Regions from separate parts of the Homo sapiens genome. Here region 2 is linked to region 1. The links come from fine-mapping of genetic effects on gene expression. Tissue or cell type: whole blood. Region 1 holds a variant in brackets; the other region holds the start of a gene. Each region is shown on its reference strand, or each on the opposite one.

What was found. PIP is the estimated chance that this variant, and not a neighbour inherited with it, causes the effect.
Region 2: SPAG8 starts here. The variant in region 1 is fine-mapped to the expression of SPAG8 in whole blood (TOPMed, PIP above 0.99).

What each region holds. Positions count from the first base shown.
Region 1 is chr1:212,591,439-212,602,718 of GRCh38, reverse strand. It overlaps a transcript of ATF3 not described here. Among named protein-coding and RNA genes, the nearest start is that of ATF3, 12 kb to the left of the region's middle. RefSeq lists enhancers at 6,078-6,372, 5,996-6,475, 5,637-6,836. The variant G/A (reference allele first, on the strand shown) is at 4,477.
Region 2 is chr9:35,808,519-35,816,958 of GRCh38, reverse strand. It overlaps SPAG8 (sperm associated antigen 8), which reads left to right and starts at 4,697. Exons shown (of 7, transcript NM_001039592.2): 1 at 4,697-4,855; 2 at 4,958-5,777; 3 at 5,902-6,076; 4 at 6,277-6,322; 5 at 6,406-6,520; 6 at 6,650-6,712; 7 at 6,827-7,164. The coding sequence starts at 4,812. The coding sequence ends at 7,021. It overlaps NPR2 (natriuretic peptide receptor 2), which reads right to left. Exons shown (of 22, transcript NM_003995.4): 19 at 8,276-8,440; 20 at 8,106-8,204; 21 at 7,712-7,803; 22 at 7,228-7,579. The coding sequence ends at 7,514. It overlaps HINT2 (histidine triad nucleotide binding protein 2), which reads left to right and starts at 1,917. Exons shown (of 5, transcript NM_032593.3): 1 at 1,917-2,060; 2 at 3,175-3,315; 3 at 3,410-3,514; 4 at 3,621-3,693; 5 at 3,814-3,999. The coding sequence starts at 1,980. The coding sequence ends at 3,905. It overlaps FAM221B (family with sequence similarity 221 member B), which reads left to right. Exons shown (of 7, transcript NM_001012446.4): 7 at 1-568. RefSeq lists silencers at 1,275-1,454, 1,785-2,104 and enhancers at 1,545-1,724, 4,879-4,928, 4,623-5,179.

The DNA of each region.
Region 1 (11,280 bases):
TTTACGTACAGTTAATGCTTTTAATTATTGTAACCACCCTTTGATGGACCGTAAACATCTCCATTTTATAGATGAGGAAACTGAGGCACAGACAGGGTAAATAACTTGCCAGAAGTTACCTAGCTAGTGAGCAGTAGAGCAGGACTCAACCCAGGCAGTCTGACTCCCAAGTCTGAGTGCGCAACCACGATACCTACCACCTCCTGGCAAGTGCTCACGGGAAACTTGGGATGCTCTGATGCAGTTCAGGGCCCTCCTTTGATGGATGAGGAAACTGAGCTTACAGAGAAAAATGTGGCTCTACATCGTGTCAGAATCATAAATTCTCATACCGAAAGGAACCTTAGCAGCCATTGAGACTCGTGAACCCCTTTTTTGCCCTCCACCTGGGGAGATGCTGCTTTTGCTAAGAATAGGGCCAAGGTGAAAAAAGCTGATTGTAAGAAGAGCACCCTAAAACATTTTAGGGGCACCTTAGCTAGTGGCTGGCAAGGCATACTATCCTTGGGGCTGAAAAGGGGATGGTGTAGGGTAGAAGCCAGGGATGGCAGAAAGAACCTGTGGTCAGATAGAACTGAGTTCAAATCCTCTTTCTGCCACTGCTTATTTAGTTTTAAGAAGGTCTTATAACCTCAGTTTCTCCTGTAAAATGAGGATAATGTCTGTTTCCTCATTTATATCTGTTTCCTTAATCATGGGATTAAGGAACAATACACCTTTATTATACATTGTATGCCTGTATCAAAATATCTCACATGCCCAATAAATATATACACCTACTATATACCCCCCAAAATTAAAAAACAATTCACCCTCAAAAGTGACATTCAATAAATATTGCTTTTTTCCCTCTTCACGCCTTACCCTTGAAGCTACCAAGTCATATGGAAACCTGAGACACCAAAGTGTCTAGACCCTCATGGAAAGTTCCATCTCTCAGGCTGGCTTACTGACTGATTTTAAAACAAATTTAAAAAAACTTGATGTGTGGCCAGGTCCTATTTAGTAATTACTATTTACTGAGCACATACTACATGCCAGGCACAATAGTAAGCACTTTTAAAAATACCCAGTATCTTATTTCATCCTTATAATAACCTGTGAGGTAGGTTTTTTATCTCGGTTTTACAGATGAGGAAACCAAAGCACAGAAAGGTTAAGAAAATTGCTCATAGGTACTTGATTTAAACACAAATCTAACTTATTTCAAAACTTACATTAAGCGATACTGTCCTCAAAATCTTAGAGAGCATGATGTGTGTTTACTTTTCTTTAGCCTTCCCTACCTTGTTGAAAATGAGCACCCTCGCTTTACCAAAGTCTTGCTGAATGCACAGATGCTTCTAGAGTTGACCTTACCAGAAAATTCTTACTCCTGATGTCCCAGAGGATACATGCTTAATAAATTCCAGATCCCTGTGCCCTCAGGGATACTTTCCCCCCTGCCAAATTTGCAATTATTTCATAATTTGCTTTAACCACAAACATAAGCCCTGTTATTGACTGAGTAAACTGAGTAGGGCTTTTTGGACTTTTATTCTTTTCCCAAAATACGATGAACTTGAATCATCAGATGATGAACTTGTACTTGAAACTAGAGTGGCTGAGGGCAAAGTGAGTCACTCCAGTGAGTTTATGCCTATCAATCAATGCATCAAATTGTGTCCTATTACCGGACACTGCTCTCAGCAGTCTACTTAGACACCTTGGGGTTACAAGGACAATATAAGAGCATTTCTTGACCTGAAGAGTTAAAAATCTTGTTTAGGTGGCAAATTAATATACATGAAGCAGAAGTCCAGCAATATAGTAGGTATTTTATATATATACTATATATATATGTATGTATGTTTAGTCCTCCAACATTTTAACGAGCACCAACTATATGCTGGATACCGTGTCAGAAGCTGCAGGTACACAGTGATGCATATCTGCCTTCCAGGTGCTCACAGCCCATGGGGAGACAGACTTGATAACAAATAGTTACAGCCTGATGCAGCAAGGGCTAAAGTGGGGCAGGACGGCTCTGCCCAGGAAAGCTGGCAAGAGCTGATGGCTGAGGTGACTGTCGAGCTGGATGTTGAGCCGACCGTTTTCTAGGCAAGGGAAGTGGACAGGCATTCCAGGCATAGAGAAAGTCATATGAAGAGGCTGTGAGTGCCAGGAAGGGGCTGTGCCCTGCTCATCTCTGTCCTTATTTCCAGCTCTTTGCACAGTTCCAGGCACATGCCAGACCCACAGTGAATACGCATTCAGTGGATGAAAATACGGAATGGAGAGAACATGCACAGTGTTTGGAGAACAGTGAGGCAATTGCTGAGCAGGAGTATTTGTGGAAGGGAGGAGACGTTAGGGAAGCAAGTCTGGGAAGAACAGACTGTGATAGCCTTTGAAGATGTAATAATCAGTTTGGACTCTGTCCCCAGGGACAAAGGGAGGGGGTCTGTCAGTGGCAGATGGACACAAACAGATGTTTTTCAGGAAGACTGCTGGTAGAGGGCTGAGGGTGGGCTGGATGGGAGAGGAAGATGCCCATGGAGGGCCATCAGGAGGCTGCAACACTGGTCAGGTGAGGCCATCGGAGGCCAGATGAACTGTGAAGATGGTGGTATCCCCACTCTCGTATGTTGTTCACTCAAAATAAAAATTATTCACAAAACACAATGCTCTTATGTGTACTGAAATTAAAATAGCCTTTTTCCCCTGGATCTTTTCATTGCAAAATTCAGGATTGCTTTATTAAAACTGAGCTTCCCTCACTTTCGGGGGCCCTCCCCATTACAGGTACCCTAAGCAGGCATCTGATCAGTCTTGGGAGTACAGCAGTGTTGCCTCACCTGAGGCAGGGCTGGTAAGGAGAACAGGAGGGGATGATTTTGGGAAACTTCTAGGCAGACATCTTTGGATTTTGGCAGAAGCTTGGTGTTAGGATAGATGGAGAGGGGAGGAATGCCCCTATCTCAGATGTTATAGAGCATAGCATTGGGGTGGGAAGGAACTGATTGGGTATTGTAGGCAGTAGAAGTGGGAAAAGACTAATAAGGGCATTTCGGGACAAAATGCTTAGCAGTGGGATGTCAAAGAAGGGAATGGCCCCTAGCCATCAGCATGTTGGGGATATCAAAGTAATGGAAAGACTCAGAGGAGAGAGGAGAGAGAGGGAGGAAGAAGAGCCAGGTTGGGGCCTAAGGCATAATGTAGGAGTCAGTGTGGATTATTGGAAATTTACGGATAATTACCAAGTACCATGAAAATCTACCTCACTGGTTCACAGCTGTAATTTATGCTTTCCCTCAGGCTTTGGATAACAATATTTATTCCAGCTAGCTTTCTGATAAAGTGATTAATGAAGACCAGAAATGGTCCCTCAAGAACCAGGAAAAGCCAATGATCCTCAGCCTGACATAGTTGAGAACTGACAAACTAGACACTTATTTAAACAAGTCTTTTTTCAGTGCTATGCCACTATTTTAAAAGATATTCACAAAGAGATTACAACTTAGGGAATGCTGTAGAGATAATGTGGGTTTTAAATGCAAGATACATATCATCTCACCCCAGTTAAAATGGTTTTATCCAAAAGACAGACAATAACAAATGCTGGTGAGGATGTGCAGAAAAGTTAACCCTCGTACACTGTTGGTGAGAATGTAAATTAGTACAGCCATTATGGAAAACAGTTTGGAGGCTCCTCAAAAAACCAAAAGTAGAGCTACCATATGATCCAGCAATCCTACTGCTGAGTATATACCCAAAAGAAAGGAAATGAGTATATCAAGGAGATATCTGCACTCCCATGTTTGTTGCAGCTCTGTTCACAGTAGCCAAGATTTGGAGGCAACCTAAGTGTCCATCAACAGATGAATGCATAGAGAAAATGTGGTACTTATACACAGTGGAGTACTATTCAGTTATAAAAAAGAATGAGATACTGTCATTTGCAACAACATGGATGAAACTGAAGGTCTTTATGTTAGGTGAAATAAGCCAGGCACAGAAAGACAAACATCATATGTTCTCACGTATTTGCAGGATCTACAAATAAAACAATTGAACCCATGGACACAAAGAGTAGAAGGATGGTTACCAGAGGCTGGGAAGGGTAATGGGGGTGGGGGAAGGTGAGGATGGTTAATGGGTTACAAAAAAATAGTTAGAATGAATAAGACCTACTATTGATAGCACCGCAAGGTGACTGTAGTCAAAATAATTTGCTTGTACATTTAGAAATAACTAGAAGAGTATAATTGGATTGAGATACAAAGGATAAATGCTTAAGGGGATGGATACCCCATTTCCCAAGATGTGATTATTCCATCTTGCATGCCTGTATCAAAGTATCTCATGTACCCCATAAACATACACACTTACTATGTACCCATAAAAGTTAAAAATAAATAAATTTTAAAAAGTAAGATATATATCAACACAGAACAATCATAACTCAATAAAAGCTATAAATAAACAACAAAATAC[G/A]TAGAATAAGGGAAATAAAGAAATTTCCATAAAATATTAAAAGTATTTAGTTGTTGGAAGTATGGGTGGGTAACTTTTTTTCTCTTCTACTTATATATTTCTGAATTATCCCATTGTTCTATAGTGCGGATGTGTTAATTCTTAAAAGATGAAAGTATAAACTTTCATGAAGGCAAAAACTAATATTACTGTGTGTCTTTCGAAGAGTGTATTTGCCTACTTTTTTCCAGTCCTGCCATTAAGGGGTACCTAAGACTGAGATTCCATCCAAATCAAATCCTGGCTTAATTATGTATCAAGCACTCCTTGAATGCCTACCATGTGCCAGGGGCTGAGATGGAATCCAGGAAAGAATAAAATTGTTTCTAAGGTAGGAGATGGAATGATGAATTAATCTTCAATAAGCTCAGTTTTTGTCCTGCTAAACCTCATAGTGACTTATATAAGCGAAACGGAAAGAAATCCAAAGTGTACTCATCTACACTGAGAACACTGTGGTAAGTGGAAACAACACTCGGGCCAAGGTTCAAGTTCTGGTTCTGCACTAGCTGAGAAACCTGAGGTCCCTCTCTGAGGGTCAAATTCCTCCTGTGTTAGTCAAGGAGGCTGTGCTAAGGGAAGGGCTCCAGAAGGCAGCAAGAGTCTCAACCTCTGCCACTTACTGGCCTGGAACATTGAACATAAAGCTAATACGACCCACCTTGCAGGGTTGATATGGGGCAGGGGGTGAAAAGATAGATGATTGCTAGATAGATGAATGGATGGATAGCTAGCTAGATAGAGAGATAGATGATAGATAGATAGATAGATAGATAGATAGATAAATAGATGTAACTCAGTACCCAGAATATAACAACACATTAGTAAATGGGAGCTTCTATTATTATAAATTCTGAAATTCCTTACAGTTCTTCAATTTTGTGATTATAAGCGCTGTGTCTACAGTCGATGATGAAGATGATGATCATGATGGTGATATTATTTTCTAAGGGCCCCTTTTTTCTTGTCGTCATTCCCTATTGACCAAGTTTCTACAGAAGAGACACATACCTAGTCACATAAAAGTGAGTCACCGAGGAGGCCCCATATTGTCTCTGTCTGTGTTGGACATGCCTTGCTGGACAAACCACCTCTTTCTCTCAATTTCCAACACTTAATGTCTATTTTCTTATCTGAAGATTGCCCCCGCATCTTCCTCACATAAAAGTGCTGTGAGGAATAAATTCATACACTCATTCCTCGTGTATGTATTGAGTGCCTACTGTATGCCTGGCATTGTTCAAGAGCTGGACATCCAAGAATGAACAAGACAGAAAGAGGCTCCACACTGGGCACTTAGCAGATACCCCAACATTAATTTCTCCTCTTAAGCTTAATTTAAATGGAAATAAGACAGCAGTGGGAATTCAAAGAGATTCTCAATTCAGAAGAACCAGTGTTATCTCTTCAGCATTCCTTTAAAGAATTTGGGAACAAAACACTGACTGTTAACTAGCTCACCATTCATGTGCCAGAGGGAAGCCACCTTCTTTTTCCCCCTTGGCATTGGCCTTGAAAGGGGAGCCAGTGGGTGAGAGGGGACATTGTCCTTTCTTTCTGGCATATAGAGCCTTAGCTTTAACTTTCACACCCCCCACAGCACTCTTCTGCCTTGGCTCTGTTACATGTCCTGACATGTAGAACCAAAGGAAACACAAAGTGAAAATGAAACGAATGTTCCACCTGAGTCACTGTCTGTGTTTCTCTTTTATCACCAAAGCAATGAACTCCCACACAACTGAGGCTTGTTCTATTTAGGTTGTAAAACGTCATCTTTGTAATTAAAGCACACTATTATTGTTATAAAGTAAACAATTGGAAAACATGTTCTTAGAAACATCTCTCTGATTCATAAATATTTGGATGGTGAAATCACAGAAGTGGAATGCTAACCTTGCTAACACGCTAGTGATAAAGATCAGTAGGCACTTATGTTACACAGGGGAAAGTTAGCCTTAGTGTGCAGTAGAAAAGTGAGGTGGAAAATAGGAGTTATCTTGTAACGGCCATTTGGAATCATGGAGGTTTAAAAAATATAAACTATTTTTTCTCATGTTAAATTTCACTTCACTTGTGTTTATTAATTCATTGAAGGAATATTAATTCATCGAAGGAATATTTTGTTCCCACTCCACTGGGGCCACACCCCACAGTCACTTTAAGCCCCAACCACTTGAGGCGCTAGTGGTTTCATTTTCTCATCAAGCCTCTCACGTCTAACATTCTTGCCTATGATGGAATTTCCTCCTCCTCCTGCCACCCAAACCTTTCCATTTACAAAACTGCTGTTTCATTATATCTTTCAAAATCCAGTTTCAAAGTCACTTCCTTGTGTAGGTAATATAATGTTAGTCACCTCTAGGACTAGCCATGTAATTAGTGGGGCCTATTACCAAACGCAAATGTGGAGCCCCTTGTTCAGAAATTATTAAGAATGTTGAGTCAGTGACAGCAGAGCATTAAGCCAATGTGAAACTTGTTAAGGGTGGGACTGAACAGGTCATCCGGCTTATGAGGCTAGCCGTGGACGCACCTTTTCTGTGTTCCCATAGTTCTTAGAGGATATTTTTGTTTCTTGGCCATTCAGCATCTATCCATCCCAATTCGAGTAATGGTTTCCCAGTTTTCGTCCGAGAAAGCCACTCCCCGCACATTTCCGGTCCCTGTGCATTGGGTGACCAGTCAGAGCAAACCAGGCCAGGGACCACTGTGGTTGGTCCAGGAAGGGGCTCAGGATCCATGTAGAGCCACTGAGCTGCGGGAGCACCGGGCTGGGGCTGCTGGAGGCAGCTCACTAGCTGGACTTGAAGGCAGGGGGCTGTAGCCTGGGGCTGCTGAGGTTGCCATGGGCAACTGGAGAAAAAGGTTAGAGCCAAGAGGCTCTATATCAAGCTGGGTGGCAGCCACACTTTCTGCAGAGTTTTCAGCTATATGAACCGGCAAATCTCCACTTTTTGTTAAGCCATTTTGTACTGTTTTTTCTAACGAGCCAAAGAGTCCTAGGGGCTACACATCTATTTGGTCTTTATATACATATTTTTATACATGTGTTTCCCTACAGTTTTATGAACTCCTTGGGAGTGGGTATCCTATTTTGCTCATCTTACCATCCTCAGTGGTTGAGATATTATTAAAATATCCTTTTACTTTTTAAATAAATATAACTGTAATAGTAGATGGCAAAACAATAATTGACAACCCTGCAATTATCCTCAGTTTTTGTTGTGAAACTTAACCAGTCTTTAGAATCGGAATGGCTGTGAGCCCCTGCACATGTATTCAGTTCAATACATGCTAAGTCCAGGTGGCCAGGCAATCAGCCAATGGGTTAATTCTGCTCACAGGTGCTGGCAACACTCTCTTCTTTCCCCTGACCTGTAGGCCTGTAAGGGGCCCAGTAGCTTCAGCCCACAAAGCACATTCACACCCATTAGCTCCTCTGCATCTCCCACAACCCTAAAAAGGGATCAGGCGGGGCGCTTCATCTCCATTTTACAGACTGGAGATTGAAATAAAGAGTCTGGGCAGTTTCAGCAACATGCTCTGTTTCTGTCTATAGACCCAGGCTCTCTTGTACCCCTGCCACCCTCATCTGAGACTCTTCTGCCCTGTGTCTCTGCTCTGTCTTCTCCCTCCTTGCTCTTTGACCCTTCCACCCTAATAAGGCAAAATGTTTAAGAGGTAGAGTGACTTTTTAAATCTGACACCAGTAGGACTCTGTTCATCTATAAAGGCACAAAATAAGCACAATGCCAACTCTGGAAAATTGTTAGGTTTTTTGTTTTCTTTTTTGTTTGTTTGTTTCATTCATAGTCTCTGAATATTTACTTTTTAGAAATAAGTTATTTGTATTTAATTTTAAAAGAAAAATAATGAATCCCAGCTAGAAAGTTGCAATAAAACATATTCTAGTCCTTGCCAGTCTTCCATTAAATTCATGAAGCATGTAGACTACCTGGAATGTGTCTTAGCCTCATGCATCATTTCCCCAGGCCTCATCTGCAGGGGCTGCTGGCCAGCTGCTCGTCAGCTCCACCGAGCCCCGAACTGGAGGAAACAGAATTTAACTTCACAGGGAGGGCTAGACCAGACAGAGGGAAGACTTATGCTCTGGGAGTGCTTAGACATTGGAACAGGCTACCAAGGCAGGTGGGTGATGATTCCTTCCAGGTGGATGTGTGTGACTCTGAGTGAGCACCCATGTGCAGGCAACTCAAGGACTAATTGGAAATAGGGTGCTATCTTACATGAAATCTGAGAGCTCAAGAATTCCAGGAGTGGCTACTCAACATCACAGATTGAACAGGGACTTTGGGGAGTTTTAAAGATCTACAGAAAAATAAAGACAGCCCTAGGGCTAAGAATGGTGACTGATATAAATAGAGACACAGACACATAGGTATGCTTACAATCATTTACAAAGTCTTAAGAACACTTTTTTTTTTTTTTTTTTTTTTTTTAAAGAGACAGGGTCTCTCTCTATCATCCAGGCTGGAGTGCATTAGGGCAATCATAGCTCACTGCAGCCTTGATCCCCTGGGCTCAAGTGATCCTCTAGCCTCAGCCTCCCAAATAGCTGGGACTACAGGCACATGCCACCATGCCTGGCTAATTTTTTAATTTTCTTTTTTTTAGTACAGATGATCTCACTTTGGTGCCCAGGCTGGTCTTGAATGCCTGGGCTCAAGCCACCCTCCCACTTCAGCCTCTCAAAGTGCTATGGTTACAGGTATGAGCCACCACACCCAAGAACACTTTTTTTTTTTATACTTTAAGTTTTAGGGTACATGTGCACAATGTGCAGTTTTGCTACATATGTATACATGTACCATGTTGATGTGCTGCACCCATTAACTCGTCATTTAGCATTAGGTATATCTCCTAATGCTATCCCTACCCCCTCCCCCCACCCCACAACAGTCTCCGGTGTGTGATGTTCCCCTTCCTGTGTCCATGTGTTCTCACTGTTCAATTCCCACCTATGAGTGAGAACATGCGGTGTTTGGTTTTTCATCCTTGTGATAGTTTGCTGAGAATGATGGTTTGCAGTTTCATCCATGTCCCTACAAAGGACATGAACTCTTCATTTTTTTATGGCTGCATAGTATTCCATGGTGTATATGGGCCACATTTTCTTAATCCAGTCTATCACTGTTGGACATTTGGGTTGGTTCCAAGTCTTTGCTATTGTGAATAGTGCCACAATAAACATACATGTGCATGTGTCTTTATAGCAGCATGATTTATATTCCTTTGGGTATATACCCAGTAATGGGATGGCTGGGTCAAATGGTATTTCTAGTTCTAGAACCCTGAGGAATTGCCACTCTTACCAAGAACACTTATCTTTAAATGCCATGTTATCAATGGATGTATCGGGCTGGCAGCACCCAAACCCACAGATCTGTTTTACTATCTCAAGAAGTGAGACCATCAGATACAAGGGCCTCTTGCTGTGATGTAATAGAAAGCACACAGCCCACCAAAGTAGTTGAACCTGAATGCAATCCGGCCCCTAGATCTGACCATTTGTTTTTGTGAAATTCAGAGGATAGAGGAAATGGTTAAACAATGCTGAGGATGTAATCAGCCAAATCCAGAATGAGGGAAATTCTACAGGACAAATTAACTCATTTCTTCAACAAATAAATAGCATGAAAAATAAGGAGAAAGAATATGGTAGGTTAAAATAGACTTAAGAGACATATCAACCAAATATAATGTGTGGACCTTGTTAGGATCCTGATTCTGTCTAACTGTAAAATGACATTTAAAGACATACTTTTGGAAACGTGAACATAGATTAGCTAATTCGATGATATTAGAAAATTATTATTAAATTTTTTAGATATGTTGTGATTATTATCTTAAAAGCCCTTATCAGTCTTTAAAAGGAATAAAATACTTAGATGAACGTTGAAAACATGAGTGAAATAAACCAGATTTTTAAAAATGCTGTATGATTTCACTTAGATGAAGTGTCTGGAATGGTCAAATTCAGAGACAGAAAGTAGAATAGTGGTTACTAGGGGCTAGGTTGAGGGAGAAATGAGGAGTTATTGTTTAATGGGTACAGAGTTTCAGTTTATGATGCAAATGTTCTGGAGACAGATGGTGGTGATGGTTGCACACAGTGTGAAGGTACTTAATGCCACTGAATTGTACACTTGCAAATGGTTAAAATAGAACATTTTATGTTATGTACTTTGTACCGCAATTTTAAAAGAAGTCCTTATCTGTTAGAAACATACTCTGCGATGCCTATGATTTGCTTTAAAATACTCCCACCCGGCGGAGGTTGCAGTGATCCGAGATCGCTCCATTGCACTCCACCCTGGGCAGCAGAATGAAACCCTTTCTCAAAAAATAAATAAATAAATAAAAATTTAAAAAATGCCCATCCTACCCTACCACCCCATAAAAGAAAAGTGTGCGGAAGGGGAGATGAGATAAGATTGGCAAAGTATTGATAATCGTTAAAGCTGGATTTCAGGTATATGAGGATTTATATGTGTACGTTTGCAAATTCCCATGATTAAAAAGTTTAAAAATGACTGCAGAATGCCTTACTATCAAGGATAAATGAATACAGTGCAAATCTGCCCACAAACGTAGCTGAGCCCAGCTGATTGGAAGAGTGCACACAATGGACTGGGGCGGGGGGGATGGAGAGCATTCCCCATGGCCAATCCTTGGCCATCGAGTGTCTAAAGAGCACTTACATTTTCAAAACTACATCCTGACCTCTGCTCTTGCCAGAACATC
Region 2 (8,440 bases), not on the chromosome of region 1:
CCCTTCTCCAGGGCAACTCTAGGGTCTCCCAGTGTCCCAGAGGCACCACAGAGAACTGCAGCCTCTGGGGCCCAGAGAAGAGGCCATTCTACATTTCCTCACAATTAGGGGGGCCATCTGTTCCTCCAAGGGAAGGAATGCAATCTGGACTGCTAGGATCCCTGGGGAAAATCACAGAATCAAATGTCTGCCCTTTAGAGGAGAAAGGATTTTCTAACAATAATATAGCTATACAAAAGAGATTGTTATATCTCTAGAAGCAAAGTTCCCCAACAGTGGTTATATGCCCCATGATAACCATTCACCTAAAACTAATTCAACTAATAGTCAACAATAGAGTTAGGATTACTATGATAAACTCATTGAAGGAAATAATAAGCAGCCAATACAAACTATATTTACGTAGACTGTAAAAATATGAAAAATTGATTACACATGGGTTAGTATCATATGCAATACATATTACATATTATGAAAAAAAGACAGGAAACACCAAATGTTATTCATTCAACAATTACTGACCACCTATATGTATCAGGTCATGTGTTTAAAAAAAAAAAAAAGAAAAAAAGAAAAACCAAAGAAACAGTGGTAACTTGTCCTATGTGATATCAGACTAAAACTTACCTAGCGTCTGAGAATATTAGTATTTTGTGACCCCACGTTTCTTATGTCAAAAATATATATTCCAGCAGTGCAAACCTGACTTATTGGTGCCTCATACCTGTAATCCCAGCACCTTGGGAGGCCGAGGCAGGAGGATCACGAGGTCAGGAGATCGAGACCATCCTGGCTAACACGGTGAAACCCCGTCTCTAATAAAAATACAAAAAATTAGCCGGGCGTGGTGGCGGGTGCCTGTAGTCCCAGCTACTCGGGAGGCTGAGGCAGGAGAATGGCGTGAACTCGGGAGGCGGAGCTTGCAGTGAGCCGAGATCGCGCCACTGCACTCCAGCCTGGGCGACAGAGCGAGACTCCGTCTCAAAAAAAAAAAAAAAGAAAAAAGAAAAAAAGAAAAAAAAAGAAAACACCAGGCACCGAGCTAACTGTATCACACACCTTTTCCGATTAGAAAAGAACAATGAATACATACTCCTTTGCTTATTATAATTCTTGTGCGGCAAATATAGGACACTCTTATCTCCTCCTGCTCAAAAAAAAAAAATGCAAAAACCACAGACTTTTTAATCTATGGAGTGAATGCGTTAACAAGAACATAGAATTAAGGAAGAATTTCCCTTAGATAAGTACATTAAAATCTCCAAAATGCTCAAGGGACTGAAACTGCCCTTGTGGAGAAAATGCTGCGCATCAGCCCCGCCAGTTAAAACAAACAAACAAACACAAAAAAACACACCTCATCCCCGTTCACCTTTAGCCCCACCCCGGGTGGTTCTTGGAGCCAATAAGCGCCGGATGCCCTCAGAGCCCCGCCCTCCTCCTGGCCAAAGCGGTGAGAGGGTCTAAAACAGCCCTTTCTGCAGCAGGTGGCGGAGCCCCGCCCCCTTCTCCCCGCGCACCAATAGGAACCAGACCTGAAGAGGACGAACCAAGAACGAAAAGAACCACCCACTCGGGAGCCGCAACCTAGAAGCCAGAGTTGTGTATCAGATTCAACTAGGAGAAAATCCCACCTCCAGGCTCCATTAATCCTTCCAATGGAGTGGAAGTTTCTCTCACAGAGAAACTAGTAAGGGGATCCAATGGGAAAAGAACGTTCACACGGACTAGAAGACGAAACCAATGGAATGGAAAATTGTCCTCGCGTTGGTAGAAGCAGCCAATGAGATGAAAAGAGCCCGCCTCCAAAGTGGCTGCAGAGGCAATGGGGTGAATCGTGCTCAGAGGCGCGCTCCAATGGGGTAGCAGGGCTCGCCCGGCCGCCACTACCCCGCTTCCCCGCGCCCGGAGTCCCCACCCACGGCCGGCCGCGGAGCCGAGTGCTGACCCGGGTGAGAGGTTCCCGCGGCTCAGGGAAGATGGCGGCAGCCGTGGTGCTGGCTGCTGGGTTGCGCGCGGCGCGCAGAGCCGTGGCGGCCACGGGGGTGCGCGGGGGGCAGGTGAGAAGTGGCGCGGGAGCGAGTAGGGGGTCCTGCGGGCTCCGAAGCCATCCGGGGCCAGGGGGTCCCGAAGGCGCGCAGAGCCGCGCAGAGCTCCTGCCTGTGGCCTCTGCCCCTCCGAGGCACAAGCTCCGGGGCTGTGTGGTGAGGTCGAACTGGTGGCTCCGGAGAACGAGCTGGTGCTGATTCCCGCCCTGCGCAGGCCGGGGCGCCGAGGTCGGGACAGGGTCAGTGCAGCGGCTGCCGCCTTCTTTCCACTGCCTGCAGCCCAGCTGGCCCGATGCCCCCTGCAGGAAATGAGCTTTCTCTTCTTGGAGCCAGTGCTCTGCCCTCCTCAGGCTTCTGGCCTCCTAATGAGCACTAGTGTTAACCTCTCTTCTGCACTTGCCAGAAGCGGCTCGGAGGTCAGAGAATTCATTCCGTCCCGTTCTCCCCCAACGTGATGCAATGACATCAGCCTTCTCTGAATCCCTTACCCGAAGTTCCCTGGGGCTAGGGGAGCAGAGGTCACTTAGCTGAACTCTTACCTCCACTCATTCAAGGGACAAGAGTTAAAATTCACAGAGTCACATGTGACACCCAGATGAGGGGTCAACTAGTGTCAAACAGGGCGATTGCATTAAAACTTAAATAAAACAGGCGACAAGGCTTAAAGATCAGAAAACAAGTAACGGAAATAAGTGGAAATGTACTAACAAGGTGAGAGTGGAAAGAGATTCAAGCCATCGCAAGAGATTATGGAAACCATCCCTTTATTTTATATTAGAAGCTGAGAGAAGGAATTTATCTGAGGTAATTCAGTGGTATGGTAAGGTAGGAACTGAGACCAAAATCCCCAGTCTCTCATTCTAGATCCTTTCCCTAAACAGTGCTATATTTCGTGGACACATGAGCAGGAATCAATTGCACTGCTGAATCCTGATAATAATACCGCCTGTTATCTAACCAGGTCCAGCACCTTCTGGCCCTACCCTTTGCTGCTGGTGCTCTGAAATTCAGGAACTTTCCTCCTGGGTGGGAACGATGAATAGGTTATTAGAAGGACGAAATTAACAACTATCAGAGCCCAGCTTCTGCCAGCTCCCTCCTTTGAATATGGTCGATCCACCTTCAGGTCCGAGGAGCTGCAGGTGTGACTGATGGGAATGAAGTGGCCAAGGCCCAGCAGGCAACTCCTGGGGGAGCAGCCCCAACCATCTTCTCCCGGATCCTGGACAAGAGCCTCCCAGCTGACATTCTCTATGAGGACCAGCAGGTGGGGTGCTCTTAGGACCTATCCCCTTAGGAATGTTGTAGATACCATCCAACCTGTTGAAGTAACGTGGCCTCTGGCCTGTCACTTCCCCCAGTGTCTTGTGTTCCGTGATGTGGCCCCTCAGGCTCCTGTGCACTTCCTGGTCATTCCTAAGAAGCCCATTCCTCGGATTAGCCAGGCTGAAGAAGAAGACCAGCAGGTGGGAAGAACAGGGCCAGGGTTTGGCTGGGAGGAGCCCCTGGACCCAGCTAGAGGTCTTGCTCCCTATGAATGAAGCCACCTATGTCCCTCCGCTCTCTCTATAGCTTCTAGGACACCTACTCCTTGTGGCCAAGCAGACAGCAAAGGCTGAGGGCCTGGGAGATGGATACCGACTTGGTGAGTGACTTTTGGCCCTTGGTCCCTCACCTATGAATTCTCATTCCTACTTCTCAATATGATCTTCATTCTTCGACCTCTGCCATGATCCTGACTCCCTAACCCCAAGCTCAATTTCAGTGATCAACGATGGGAAGCTGGGTGCACAATCTGTGTATCATCTGCACATTCATGTACTTGGGGGCCGGCAGCTCCAGTGGCCTCCAGGTTGAACCTGCCAACTGATTAAAGGACACCAGACTCTGGATGCTTGGATGGAAAGGGAAAAATGGACCCTGTGATGCTAATAAAACTGTTCTCCCTTAATTATGCTCTCCTGTCTTTAATATAAAATTTTATACCACAAAGGGGAAAGAAAACTGATTCAGGGCTATGATGCCCCTTGACTGGTCTGAGTGAAAGACACTGAGGAGGTCCAACCTGTGGTTAAATGTTGCCTGCAGATATGTAAGTCTTCTTGACAAGTGGTCCACCCTAGGTCAAGCTTCTAGAAAAGTAACAGTAGGAATGAGCCTAAATGAGTAGGAAGAAACTGAAAGCCAATCCTGGCCCTTCTTCAGAGGTCAAACCAGGTTCTAAGGGCGCTTAGGAGGAGGGTGGTCAATATGAGGGTCTTTTATTAGAGGAGGAGTAATCACACCCAAACAAAAGCGGCTGCCTTTTCACTATTCTACGTCTCACCATTTTGCTCAAGCTAGTTTGTTTATTTTCATCCTTAACATTTGTTAAAGACCCCACTCACTTTTGAGAATGAACTAAGCAAACTAAGGGGAAGCTACTTGCCTCTCAGCAAACACCAAGTAGGCTGTAATCTAATGCCACAACCCTGTGCCTGTTTCCAACATATCCCCATAAAGCATCATCTTAGAAAACCGCACGCAAAGACTGTTTGGACGTGGAGGGCGAGGTCTTAAGCCAGCGGAACCCTAAAACCCCGTCTGAGGCGGAATGCCGCCGGGACCGGAAAGCGGACCTCCCTAACAGCACTAGGCTGAAGACTTCCGCCCCGCAGAGGACTTGCCTCCACCGCCACCTGCAAGTCCGCCCAGCTGTACTTCTGCGCAGGCTCCAGGAGTTGTTTGCTGTCTCTATGGCAACCCAGTAGCTGGAGTCTGAAGATGGAGACCAACGAGTCTACGGAGGGATCGCGGTCGCGGTCGCGGTGAGAGCCGCAGCTCTGGCTGCAGGCATAAGGGGACGAGGAAGGTCAGCTGACTTCCTCTGCTGCGCTTTTGACAGCCATGTCGTGTTTGCTTTCTTTCAGATCTTTAGACATACAGCCCAGCTCCGAAGGACTGGGGCCCACTTCGGAACCGTTTCCTTCTTCAGATGACAGTCCCAGGTCGGCCCTGGCAGCTGCAACCGCAGCAGCTGCAGCGGCTGCATCAGCTGCTGCAGCTACTGCAGCCTTCACCACTGCCAAAGCAGCTGCATTATCTACAAAGACCCCAGCGCCCTGTTCTGAGTTCATGGAGCCGTCCTCTGACCCCAGCCTTCTTGGGGAGCCCTGTGCGGGACCCGGCTTTACCCACAATATAGCCCATGGGAGTCTTGGCTTTGAGCCCGTCTATGTTTCCTGTATTGCTCAGGACACTTGCACTACAACTGACCATAGTTCTAATCCTGGCCCTGTTCCAGGCTCTAGCTCTGGGCCTGTTCTTGGTTCCAGCTCAGGTGCTGGCCATGGCTCTGGCTCTGGCTCTGGTCCTGGCTGTGGCTCTGTCCCTGGCTCTGGCTCTGGTCCTGGTCCTGGCTCTGGTCCTGGCTCTGGTCCTGGTCATGGCTCTGGCTCTCATCCTGGTCCTGCCTCTGGGCCTGGTCCAGACACTGGCCCTGACTCTGAGCTCAGCCCCTGTATTCCTCCAGGGTTCAGAAACCTGGTGGCAGATCGGGTCCCTAACTATACCTCCTGGAGTCAGCACTGCCCCTGGGAGCCCCAGAAACAACCACCTTGGGAATTTTTGCAAGTCTTAGAACCGGGTGCCCGAGGACTATGGAAACCCCCAGACATTAAAGGGAAGCTTATGGTTTGCTATGAAACTTTGCCGCGGGGCCAGTGCCTCCTCTACAACTGGGAGGAAGAGGTATTAAAGTTTTGGCCTGCTCCCTTTTCTTGAAGGCTGCCCTCAGTTTCTTAGGGGAGGCAGTAGTTTACATGAGGGTGGGTACCAGAAGGGATATTATAGTCATTCAACTTGGGATCCACAGAGAGCCACCAACCACCTGGATCAAGTCCCAAGCATGCAGGATGGCTCTGAGAGTTTTTTCTTCCGACACGGACACCGGGGACTGCTGACTATGCAACTAAAGTCACCCATGCCCTCCAGCACCACCCAGAAAGACTCGTACCAGCCACCAGGAAACGTCTATTGGCCACTTCGAGGTGTGAAATGTGAGAGGGTAGGCCAGAACGAGCCCATTACTCAGAGGGAAGAAGAGGAAGGAATTTCTGGTGGGGCTGTGGATTCTCCAGTGGATATAAGGGCGGAACCCCAAGGTTCTTCTTCCTTTTCTCAAGTTAGTTTCTTCTGGGCCTCCTTCTTAACCAGACCCCACCTTGCCCACCCCCCAACTCTCTCACAGGGAAGCGTGAAGCCATGCTGGAGATGCTCCTGCAGCATCAGATCTGGTAAGGGATTGGGTAAAGGGGAAGAGGGATGGGGAGGAGAAAAATTGGGTGAGAATGGCCTTGACACCCCTCGGGCTACATAGTAAAGAGGTGCAGGCAGAACAGGAACCCACAAGGAAGCTCTTCGAGGTTGAGTCTGTGACACACCATGACTACCGAATGGAGCTGGCACAAGCAGGGACTCCTGCCCCAACAAAGGTGAGAACCCACCCCCCATCCCCCGCCACTTGCACCAGCTGGGCTCTGACAGGCTGTGGCCAAGTACCAAGCCCAGAGGTTGAGAGAGAGGGCTGAAGGCCAGGAGTTACTCAGTACCCTCCCTCACAGCCTCACGACTACCGCCAGGAGCAACCTGAGACCTTCTGGATACAGAGGGCACCACAGCTGCCGGTGTGTGAGGGTGACTAGGTGTTGGGGGCAGAGCGGGGCAGGAAAGGTAGGGCAGAGTTGTTTTGTTCTGGCTTGGGGAGAGTGGGATCCATCCTCATCCTGGCACTCCTCCAGGGTGTCAGTAACATCAGGACATTGGACACACCATTCCGGAAGAACTGCAGCTTCTCAACACCAGTACCCTTGTCTCTGGGGAAACTTTTGCCCTATGAACCTGAGAATTACCCCTACCAATTGGGAGAAATATCTTCCCTTCCCTGTCCCGGAGGAAGGCTGGGTGGTGGAGGGGGGAGAATGACTCCTTTCTGAGGGGTGAGGAGGGAAGTGGGGTATGGAATATGGAATCTATTTCTGTCTGCACTAGAGAGGTCGGGAGGAAGTTAATTCTCACTGTACTTGAAGAGGCTTTACATAAAGGGTTCTCTCTCATCCCAAGACTGCTAATTTAGTGATTCTGTGAGTCACTGTGTGCATACCCCATAACCTTTCCTTGGGATTGCCCCTATCCCACACTATGACATCAGAACTTTTTTTATTATTGTTTTATATTTGACCAAAATATTCTGGTTTAGATACAGATATTTACAGAAAGTAGGGAGGAAGGGGACCAAGCCAGAGAGGGACAGGTATATGTACAGGGCTGAGCTGCAGAGGGCTACAACTTCCATATAAGGTAGGTTTTTTTGTGGCTGTTTTCCATTGCATATGAAAATGTCCATTTCTGGTGTGTGCAGACATGGTGGCCATTGCCCACCCAGGTACCAGCAGCAGAAGACTATCTGACTTGGAAAGAATGGGGGTTTACAGGAGTCCAGGAGGTCCTTTCCGCTCTCCTAAGAGCCAGTATGTTCGCATCTTTCCTTTTCCCTGGAAGTGGGAGAGTGGACATGATTCAGATGCTTCGATGTTAGTCCCTTTGTCTCCCTCTCTTTCCCTATGATTCCCATAATCACTTTCACCCTCCCTTTCCATGCCCCCCTCCCCATGGCCTGCCATCACCTTCATTTCCACATCCCCCCGAAGCTCTAGCTGGAAGCATCCTAGCTCATCTAGGGCATCCTTGGTGGTAGAGGAGACATGGATCTTCAGCGCTGGGGTGGGTGGAATGGGGAGGATGGTGGAATGAGGAATCAAAGAAAAGGCAATCAAATAATTGGTGATACTGTATAGCACCGTGCCCGACCAACCATCCCTGGGAAGCTCCCAATGCATATCTATTAGGACCAAAATATGCCCAACCTCCCAATGCATATCTATTAGAACCAAAATATGCCCGAGGATGCGACACTAAGGAACTGTGGTCTCTCAGATTAAGAAATTGGAGGGATTATGAAAAGAAGAAAAGGGCAAGATAAATTGAGGCCAACAGTGGGGTTGAGGGCTAATGTCTTACCTTGACCATTAGACTCCATTCGAGAAGCAGTGTTCACTGTGTCTCCAAAAAGACAATAACGGGGCATCTTCAGGCCAACAACCCCAGCACAGACTGGCCCTTTGAGAAGAAACAGGTTGGGAGAGTCTGGGAAAGGTGGAGACTAGGGCTGGAGTGAGAGTCAGCCTTACCAGTATGGACCCCTATGCGTAGCCTCAGCTGGTCATGGGGTCGGTGGCGGATGCGAAAGGAAGAAACTGCATCTAGTAATGCTAGGGCCATACGAGCAATTTCTGGTGCATGGCGTTGACCATTTCGGCCTGGGAGGCCAGATACCACCATGTAAGCATCCCCAA